Regions from separate parts of the Homo sapiens genome. Here region 1 is linked to region 2. A link means that fine-mapping ties the variant in region 2 to the plasma level of a protein whose gene starts in the linked region. Region 2 holds a variant in brackets. A gene starts in the other region. All regions are shown on their forward strands.

Region 1 (5,390 bases), not on the chromosome of region 2:
GGATTTGACATGGGCCCATACTTTCTGTTATTGTCGGTTTGAGGAAGAAGAAAAGTAGAGGTGAAGAAGTTGCCTTCAGCAACTGGTAGCTACTGGTAGTTGAATCTCAGGCTGTGGTTCTACTTGGCACCTGACACTTGGAGAAGTGAAGACAGGGAGAGAAAGGTAATGGGAAGACTGGGCCCCCGGAATTGATACATAACACCAAGAAAGCAGTCAGTGAGGATTTCAGAAAGCCAGGAAAGATGGTCTATTATGAAGAGAACTTGCTGGAAACACTTGAACACTTCCCTGTTTCTGGTGAGATTTGATATCCAGAAACACATGTCTATTGAATTCAAGTTTCTCCTAATGCACATTGTAGCAATCAGAAAGAATTATAGTACTGCTATATTTCTATAAAAGATAGCAGAATCTACCTTTGACACTAATGCATGAAAATATATTTGTGTTTTAAAAAGGCAGCCTGCCAAATTTAATTCCTAAAATGAGTTAATTGCTATAGATGGTAAACAAAAAAGGATGGCTGGTTGTAGAAGGCCTTTATTGAGAATAGATGAGTTGTATTGTAGTACAATTCTTAGATCATGTCCACATAGAAAAAAATAAATTGATGATATAATTAACCCATTTTAACCTATATTATAATTCAATTTAATTAATTTATACTGATAAGATTTTTTTGAAAATCCTAGTCTAAGTAATTTTCTTCACTTTTCATATTGTCTGTTCCTTTTTATTTTTTGTAAGGATGTTTACTTTGCATTTTTTTTCTTGTATTAGGTAGAGATATCAGTTGAAAGATACCTTAAAATTTTGTGACACTGAATTTAATCAGCCAACCATTCCTAAGGAATTGATAGCATATTTACTATTTGGTTAGATGGATAGGCACTCTGGCATTAAATTAAGTCTCTAAAGTTGGCATTTTTTCTCCATTAGTTTGCCATCCTGCCCACTTACCTCTTGAATTTGAAAGATGTAAACAAAAGATTTCTAAAGATTAGAAAATTAATTTTTAAGATAATTAAGCTGTTTTGAAAATTAGAGTTTATTACAAAATATGTTATCATTTTATGTATTATTAATTTAACAATAAGTTTTATGACAGAAGATTTAAGTCAAAATAGTTGTACAATCAACAAGCAAATGATAATCATTTCCTTAAATGATTATCTGACTGATAAATGGACAATCAGTCAGACCATCAAACACCAGTTGATAACATAATCCATTTGGACAGGAACCACATTTCCAAAGGAGTTTTGATTTAGTCATTGGTGGTAAAACAAAAGATATCAGACTGTACCTTAAAAACAAAGAAACAAAACAAAACAAAAACTTGTCCAATTCAGTATACCTAATAGAGATAGGAATCAAATAGTAGTATATGTCATTAAACTTTTCCAACAAGATTCTGTGGTCACTTGAAGTAGAAAAACTTGGTTTTCCAATATAACTACTCAAATCAGTAAAAATAAATATTTTAAAGTTTTACTCTTATTTTAAAATTACTTGATTAGTTATCTGTATTTACATTAATATTTTTCAATCTTTGTTGATCCCTAATTATATTTCATATAATTTTATTAAGCTGTAGGCCACAAATTAACATTTCAAACTCAGCCAAATTTCAGGGACTATCCCTCTTTAGTTTAAGGATTAGATGAGATATGGACACTGTATATTGAAATAATCATGCACTAGAATGATAGATTTAAAATAATCTTTAAAATGTGTTAGGGAGATTTTGCCTCCCTAACACATTTTATTCAAAAGTTTTGCAGTATCTCTCAAAATTGTCACAACTTTCCCCCTTTCATGTAAATATTATGCTTTTACACATGAAATATGACTCTCTGGGCAGTATGTTTCCTGCTTGAGTTTTGCCCTTTGTGTTTATATTATCTCATGTTATACAAAGTCATTTTGTGACTAATTTCCAGAGCACTGAGTCACAGTGTGGCTGTTGCTTATCTTTTCTTTTTTCCCACATGGTAGTACTCTTGGCCCTTATTTTTGGTAATTATTTTATACTAATGAGTGCTTTTTCATAATTAAATAATTGTTTCTCTCATTATATTTCTGTGGTTGTTTACTGCTGTATTATATGCTTTCATTTTTCACTAGAAGCAAACATTTTATAACAGGAACATAACAGTACATCATGTAGGCATGTTATCTATTGTTTTAATTTACAAAATTGCACAACATAGACTTGATCGTAAGTATTCTCGTTTAAGTATCTCAGAATATGACCTTTGGTCTTTGGAGAATTGTAAAATATTTCCTTAGAGAGATTAGTTAATGCTGGCATAAAATATTCCATTTAGATTACGATTATTTTAATGGTTATACCTCATTTTAAATATCATCAACTAATAGTATTGAAAGATTATTTGAATAGAAGAATAACAGTCTCTATTTTATATGTTATGAAATAAAATGGAAAGGTAAACCGAACTTTCAAGAACTTCCAATTAACCAAGCACAATTAGTAAAGAATTCTACTACAATCTTCAAATTATAAAAAAGCTACATACACCAATTAGTTACAAAAATGTTTATGGTTTAAAATCATAAAAATTGCACATAAATTTGCTTAAGAACTAAATGCAAAATGCTGAGAACTCAAGTTTGGATTGCAGTTTGAGTTTACTCTGTTTACAGGGAAGGGCTGATTTTCATTTTACGCAAATAAACAGTGATCCTCCCCTATCAGTTCTTTGCCTCTCAGCACCCTGCTTTTCCCCCGAGAAAAAGAAATTAAAGTTATTTCTTATGGGCTAGACAGTATATTGCCAGGTACTCACAAGTAAAATCTCTGATGAAAGTTCTTGGAATGTTTTTTTCAAAACGGAGTTGAGGTTATTTTGTTTTTCCTTCCAGGTATTGAAGACAGGATTTATCTTCTCTACTTCTTCTTTTAGAAGCAGATCAAGAAACTGGCGATTGAAGAGTAACTGAAAGAAACGCAATCTGATCTTACTAGCAGTGAAAGAGCGAGGTAAGAATTTGACTATTATCCAGCCTAAAGTCGCTGCTGTCTGTTAGAGCAAAGAGGGAGCCTCAGAGTCGGCTTCAGAGATCACTGGCAGTTGGGAATAGCCCAACTTCCTGTTTAGGTCACTGCAACTCTGACTCTATTTAGTCTAAACCTCTTTTTTCTTTCTTTCTTTCTTTTTTTTAGTGGAGGAAACAGATGAAGGAAACAGCTTACACCAAGATTTCAGATACGATCATTTTGAATAGCTATTTCCTTTACTTTCCAGGATTGTTTTTGTAATCAGTTGAAAAAGAATGCTTTTTTCCCCCTAGAGTTAGGGTTTAAAAAATTACATATTTATTATTACACTGTTAATAAGCTTTTTTGCAGTTTGTTTCTTCTTCAAGTTATTTCATTTGTTTCACCCACTGTCAATGTATTTATTTTTTTTAAAAGTCTGAGGGCTACCGTTGGAGGTCTCTCTTAGTGAGACAATGTAATGCATTATCTATTGCAGGTGTCAGGCTTTGAGCCCTACCTTAGCTACTTGCTAACTTGGCTACTCAGCCCAGTTATTTGAATTCACTATGCCTCAGTTCCTTTGTTCCTAAAATGTCGATAATAAAAGTTTCTGGGCTTGATGTAAGTACTAAATGGCTTAATACATAAAAAGTACTTAAGGCAGGACCCAGCATGTAGCAAACCTCCAATAATTGTTGGCTATCATTATCGCTGTTTTCTGTATTTCTATTATTATTATTCTACAAAATATGTAAATATTTACAGATGTCAACCAGAGTCTCTGCTGTATGTCCCTATCATTGAGGTTCATCCGTACTGTCTCTGTATTGGAATTATGGTCATATCAGACTAAGATCACTAGAGATCTAATAAATGGGCAGAATCTACTTTGCCAGGAAGGCTGAAGACATTTGGTCAGAAAATGTAGGAGTTTCTTGCTTCTGCATCTCAGATTCTTTGTGCCTTCAATTTTTCTTGCTTTCCTTAGACCTCTCTGTAAAAGGTAACCTTTCATCTTGAGTGTTTTTAATACATATTGAATAATTATTTGGTGGTGACTGGAACATAAATTATCGATTTAATTCTCACAACTAGCTTATAAAGAAGGTCCTCTTTGTATGCCCATTTCACATGTCTAGGAAGATCGAGTTCAGTATGTGGAGCTGTGATTCTAATGTCATGCAGTCTGCCTTTAGAGCAAAAATGCATAAATCCTCCTCCATGCTGCCTTCTCACTCATGTTCTGGATTTCATATCATGTTAATAACTTATCTCCTATTACCTCATGCCCTGCCCCTCAACCACAATCAAAGCTATCATCTCACTCAGATTGTAGAGGAAAGTCCTTTTTTCTTGGTACCACCATGGACCTTGATTAAACTTTTGAGGAATCTGTAGCTCAGGTAGAGGCAAGCTCAGCCAATCAGATTTTCTTTCTTGAAAGTTTCGCCTCTCCTCCCTCTCCCTCTCCCTCTCCCTCTCCCTCTCCGTCTCCCTCTCCCTCTCCCTCTCACGGTCTCCCTCTCCCTCTCTTTCCACAGTCTCCCTCTGATGCCGAGCAGAAGCTAGACTGTACTGCTGCCATCTCAGCTCACTGCAACCTCCCTGCCTGATTCTCCTGCCTCAGCCTGCTGAGTGCCTGCAATTGCAGGCGCGCCGCCACGCCTGACTGGTTTTCGTATTTTTTTGGTGGAGACGGGGATTCGCTGTGTTGGCCGGGCTGGTCTCCAGCTCCTAACCGCGAGTGATCCACCAGCCTCGGCCTCCTGAGGTGCCGGGATTGCAGACGGAGTCTGGTTCACTCAGTGCTCAATGGCGCCCAGACTGGAGTGCAGTGGCGTGATCTCAGCTCGCTACAACCTCCACCTCCCAGCCGCCTCCCTTGGCCTCCCAAAGTGCAGAGATTGCAGCCTCTGCCCGGCCGCCACCCCGCCTGGGAAGTGAGGAGCGTCTCTGCCTGGCCGCCCATTGTCTGGGATGTGAGGAGCCCCTCTGCCTGGCTGCCCAGTCTGGAAAGTGAGGAGTGTCTCTGCCTGGCCGCCATCCCATCTAGGAAGTGAGGAGCGCCTCTTCCCGGCCGCCATCCCATCTAGGAAGTGAGGAGCCTCTCTGCCCAGCCGCCCATCGTCTGAGATGTGGGGAGCGCCTCTGCCCCGCCGCCCCGTCTGGGATGTGAGGAGCGCCTCTACCCCGCCGCGACCCCGTCTGGGAGGTGAGGAGCGTCTCTGCCCGGCGGCCCCGTCTGGGAAGTGAGGAGACCCTCCGCCCGGCAGCCGCCCCATCTGAGAAGTGAGGAGCCCCTCTGCCCAGCAGCCACCCTGTCTGGGAAGTGAGGAGCGTCTCTGCCCAGCAGCCACCCCGTCTGGGAGGGAGGTGGGGGGTC
Region 2 (5,390 bases):
TTTACAGGTATTATAACATTCCGTTTAGCTATAGATGAAGCATTCCATCCTTATAGTTAGCCAAGTTCTTCTATTGTGGTGTAGAGATCTTTAGGTGAAACCATCTTTAGAGTCTGTCATGAACCACAGGGTGAAAAAGACCTATCTGTATTACAGTATGAACATCCTTTCAGGAGAGGTCTACATTCATGCTTTTGCATATAACTCATATCAGTTTAATTTCTAACCTCTTCTTCTTTAGCTTTCCATTGGCATTCCATAGCAGAAGCTCTTCCTAATGTGAAATACAAGAGAAGATCTACAGATTCAAGAATTTGTGTCTGGGAGGTCCACCAAGAACTCTGAACCTCAGTTCTTTATTCTCCAAAGGATACTTTGATATGTACCCATCAGTGAGGACAGGGACTTTGTACAAGAAAGAGAAATTAATGAAACTTGTGAGCATCTGAATATTCTGATATCTTACCTCCCCACTCCCACCCTATCTAAAACCTCATCACCTGGCTTAGCATATAAAGAGCTTAATGGTGGGATACATCAGGCTGACCTAGGTTTAGGACCTAGCCACCATTATAACTTTTGGCAGCCTAGGACAAGGTATCATTCCCTTCTAAGGCTCAGTTTTCTCATGTAAAATGGAGATAATAATATCCACTTCTTGGGGTAGTTGGGAGGATTAAATAAGATTATATATGATAAATGTTCTCCATAGTACCTAGCACAAAATTAATCTTTAAAAAAAGGAGATCTATTATTATCTAAGTACCATAGTGGGCCAGCTTCCAAGTACTTAGGAAAGATCCTTGCACAAAGTAGGAGCTCTTTAAATACTGTGCAGGCAGCAAATGCCAGTTACGTTTTCAAATTTGGCTTTTGTTTATTTTGTCAGAGACTAGAGCATATTCATGAGCAGAGGAAAAAGAAGAGATCCAGAGTATACCAAATTTTCCTTAAACAACTTTATTGAGGTATAATTTTTGTCCAATATCACCCATTTTAAGTATATATTAAATATATATTTGATAAGTTTTGACAAACATATGTAATCACACATATGAAACAAGTCCCTGAGGTATGGAGGTACTGGGATCCAAAACAGAAATATAAGGTGTGACCTGACTAAGAAAGGAAAATTCACCCTGTCAGGTGGTCAAACCAGAATGACTCCATTTTGAGTGAGGGCTAGGAAAATGAGGCTGAGACTTGCTGGGCTGCATTCTAAAAAAGTTAGGCAATCCTAGCTCTTAGATGTTTATGGTTAAGGGGACAAATTAATAATGTTTACTAAACACACCCAGATTTAGGAGTGTCCGGGTATCCCGATATCTGGAGAATAAAGGCATTCCTAATTTTGCTTTAAAGACAGTAGTATCAATTCTTGAAAAATATAGTAATTAAGAAAATTCATCCTTCATCACAAACCCTAGTAGCAGAACACATCTCCCCATATAATACAAGCATTGTACCTAGGGTGAGTGTGTTCCTCCTCTTACTTTCAGGAATGTCCTACTCTGTCTATAGAATAGCTGTTCTTCCACCACTTTACTTCCTTAATAAACTTGCTTTCTCTTTGCACTGAGGACTCACCCTGAATTCTTTCTTGCACAAGATCCAAGAACCCTTTCTTGGGGTCTGGATTGGGACCCCTTTCCTGTAACGGCCTCAGGCTCCCCAGGGAAGGAGTTAAGGTGGATGAAAATGTAGATAAATAGGCACTAGGAGGGGGTAGGAGATGACATTGAAAACATTCCCTAATGTTATCTATTTCTCCTATGTGATAAGAGGCAAGGTACTTGCTGAAAAAAAGGTAAACAAGGATGAGACAGGTTCTACCTTAGAATATGAAAGTTTAAATAGCATATGTGGGGAGCGACTGACAAGGAATGTGAATAGAAATTGCCCAGCTAGGTCTGTGTATATGTTACAGCCTGGGTGTAGCACGGAGAGTGTGAGTGCTAGACTAATTCAAGGTTGGGGGCTTCTCAGGGGGTAAGAATGAGGAGCAGAAGGCTGGAGACAAGAGTTTTCCCCAGGGTTTGTAAGTATTGTTGATGAACCATGGGTGT[G/A]TGCTGCTTAGAGAAGGAAGGGAAGCCATGAGGGGACCCAGAGGTATCATGTAATGAAGGGACTGAGAGAGCTGGGTATCTCCATGAAATGTGAGAGTGGGTGGGGTGGGAGTTCACACGAGCTGAGATGCACAGGGAGTTTCTTGCTAGTTGGATTTAACATTCCATGGAGGACATATTCTGAAGGATGATGTATTAGTTTTCACACTGCTATAAAGATACAACTGAAGACTGAGTAATTTTTAAAGGAAAGATTTAATTGACACATTGCACGTGGCTGGGGAGGCCTCAGGAAACTTACAATCATGGCAGAAGGGGAAGCAGGCACATCTCACATGGCAGCAGGTGAGAGAGAGAGAGAGAAGTCCAGGGGAAACTGCCATTTATAAAACCATCAGATCTTGTGAGAACCCTCTCACTATCATGAGAATAGCACTGGGGAAAATCACCCATATGATTCAGTCACCTCCCACCAGGCCTCTTCTCAACAGCTGGGGAATATAATTCAAGATGAGATTTGGGTGGGTACACAAAGCCTAATCATATCAGATAACAAAGTTCATGTTGTGCTCACAGAAATCAGCTCTTCACATACAGTGGAATGCAAAGTTAATTTGTTAATAATGGATAGAAAAGAAAGAATAATTTTGACAACACTAAGCTTTTTTTTTTTTTTTTTTTTGAGATGGAGTTTCACTTTGTTGCCCAGGCTAGAGTGAAGTGGTGCAATCTCTGCTCACTGCAACCTCCGCCCCCAGGGTTCAAGTGATTCTCCTGCCTCAGCCTCCTGAGTAGCTGGGATTATAGGTGCCTGCCACCATGCCTGGCTAATTTTTGTATTTTTTAGTAGAGATGGGGTTTCACAATGTTGGCCAGGCTGGTCTCGAAGTCCTGACTTCAGGTGATCCACTGCCTCGGCCTCCCAAAGTGCTAGGATTACAGGCATGAGCCACAATGCCTGGCCCAACACTGGGCTTTTAAAAAGCACTGCCAGTGTTTCAGTGGGTAGTGTTCTTACCCATAGTCTTGGGAGACAACTATTACATTGCATACTGCTTAATTCATTAGCAAATCCTATTGACTTTGCCTTCAAAATATGGCCGGAATTCCACCACTCTCACCATTTTTATTGCTACCACAGTTGATATGAATATCTGTAATTGCAGCTAAATTGGACTTCCTGCTAACATCCTTGATCCCCTATAGTCTCTTCTTGTTATAGCTGTCACAAAGATTCTTTTAAAGCACAAGTCAGATGATATTCTTCTCCGTTCAATACTGTCCAATAACTTCCCATCTCATTCAGCAAATGAGCCCAAGGGCTGCTAGACCTAAATAGCCACTCTATTCCCCACCCTCTGTCTCTCTCCACCTTTCCCCACCCATTTTATTCTTTGATCTCAACTTCTGCTCTCCCCCTTGCTCATTTGGCTTCAGCCACCTGGTTCTCCTTGTCAATCCTGGATCACTACCTGCATATTTTTACTACAAAATGTTTATTCATGGTTCTTTCTGCTTTCTAAGTTTTTTTTTTTCCTATATGTCTGTGGTATTTACTTCCTCACTTCCTCTGCTCTTTGCTCAAACATCAAGCTAGGGCCTCCCCTGACCATCCTTTTTAATGTTGACTTCCTCCCCACTACAAATATTCAGCTCCTGCTATTGATTTATTTTTGCCATAGGACTTATTATCTAATATCTTATATATTTTTATTATGGTTTATTGTCTCTTTCTTTCAACTTGTGAATAAACTCCATTCAAGTAGGAATTTTGTCTGTTTTGTTATCTTCAGTACCTGAACAGTACCTAGCACTTAATAGGCAATCAATAAATGAATTGACTGTAAGGATATTTGTCCTGACTCAGAAGGTTAACAAGGATATCCAGGACCTGAACTCAGCTCTGCAACAAGCAGACCTAATAGACATCTATAGAATTTTCCACCCCAAATCAACAGAATATACATTCTTTTCAGCACCACATTGCACTTATTCTAAAATTGACCACATAATTGGAAGTAAAGCACTCCTCAGCAAATGTAAAAGAACAGAAATCACAACAAACTGTCTCTCAGACCACAGTGCAATCAAATTAGAATTCAGGATTAAGAAACTCACTCAAAACCATGCAACTACATGGAAACTGAACAACTTGCTCCTGAATGACTGCTGGGTAAATAACGAAATGAAGGCAGAAATAAAGATGTTCTTTGAAACCAATGAGAACAAAGACACAACATACCAGAATCTCTGGGACACATTTAAAGCAGTGTTTAGAGTGAAAGTTATAGCACTAAATGCCCACAAGAGAAAGAGGAAAAATCTAAAATCGACACCCTAACATCACAATTAAAAGAACTGGAGAAACAAGAGCAAACACATTCAAAAGCTAGCGGAAGGCAAGAAATAACTAAGATCAGAGCAGACCTGAAAGAGATAGAGACACAAAAAAACCCTTCAAAAAATCAATGAATCTAGGAGCTGGTTTTTTGAAAAGATCAACAAAATTGATAGACCACTAGCAAGACTAATAAAGAAGAAAATAGAGAAGAATCAAATAGACGCAATAAAAATGATAAAGGGGATATCACCACTGATCCCACAGAAATACAAACTACCATCAGAGAATACTATAAACACCTCTATACAAATAAACTAGAAAATCTAGAAGAAATGGATAAATTCCTGGACACATACACCCTCCCAAGACTAAACCAGGAAGAAGCTGAATCTCTGAATAGACCAATAATAGGCTCTGAAATTGAGGCAATAATTAATAGCCTACCAACCAAAATATGTCCAGAACCAGACAGATTCAAAGCCAAATTCACCAGAGGTACAAGGAGGAGGTGGTACCACTCCTTCTGAAACTGTTTCAATCAATAGAAAAAGAGAGAATCCTCCCTAACTCATTTTATGAGGCAAACATCATCCTGATACCAAAGCCTGGCAGAGACACAACAAAAAAAAGAGAATTTTAGACCAATATCCCTGATGAATGTCGATGTGAAAATCCTCAGTAAAATACTGGCAAACTGAATCCAGCAGCACATCGAAAAGCTTATCCACCACAATCAAGTCGGCTTCATCCTTGTGATGCAAGGCTGGTTCAAAATACCCAAGTCAATAAACATAATTGATCACATAAACAGAACCAATGACAAAAACCACATGATTATCTCAATAGAGGCAGAAAAGGCCTTTGAAAAAATTCAACAGCCCTTCATGCTAAAAACTCTGAATAAACTAGGTATTGGTGGAACGTATCTCAAAATAATAAGAGCTATTTATGACAAACCCACAGCCAATATCATAATGAATGGG

Which allele goes with the higher level. Positions count from the first base shown, and alleles are read on the strand shown. Strength reflects both the effect of a copy and how common the allele is.
In carriers of allele G in region 2, the plasma level of the protein whose gene starts at base 3,049 in region 1 tends to be lower than with A alone (strong association).

Evidence for each region. PIP is the posterior inclusion probability: the model's chance that the variant is causal. The UK Biobank Pharma Proteomics Project read protein levels with antibody pairs (Olink). The fine-mapping took linkage between variants from a reference panel, not from the people measured, so its PIPs are less certain.
Region 1: TFPI starts here. The variant in region 2 is fine-mapped to the plasma level of the TFPI protein (UK Biobank, PIP above 0.99).

What each region holds. Positions count from the first base shown.
Region 1 is chr2:187,551,387-187,556,776 of GRCh38, forward strand. TFPI (tissue factor pathway inhibitor) reads right to left here and starts at 3,049. Exons shown (of 8, transcript NM_006287.6): 1 at 2,814-3,049.
Region 2 is chr1:169,496,350-169,501,739 of GRCh38, forward strand. No RefSeq gene overlaps it. Among named protein-coding and RNA genes, the nearest start is that of SLC19A2, 13 kb to the left of the region's middle. The variant G/A (reference allele first, on the strand shown) is at 2,067.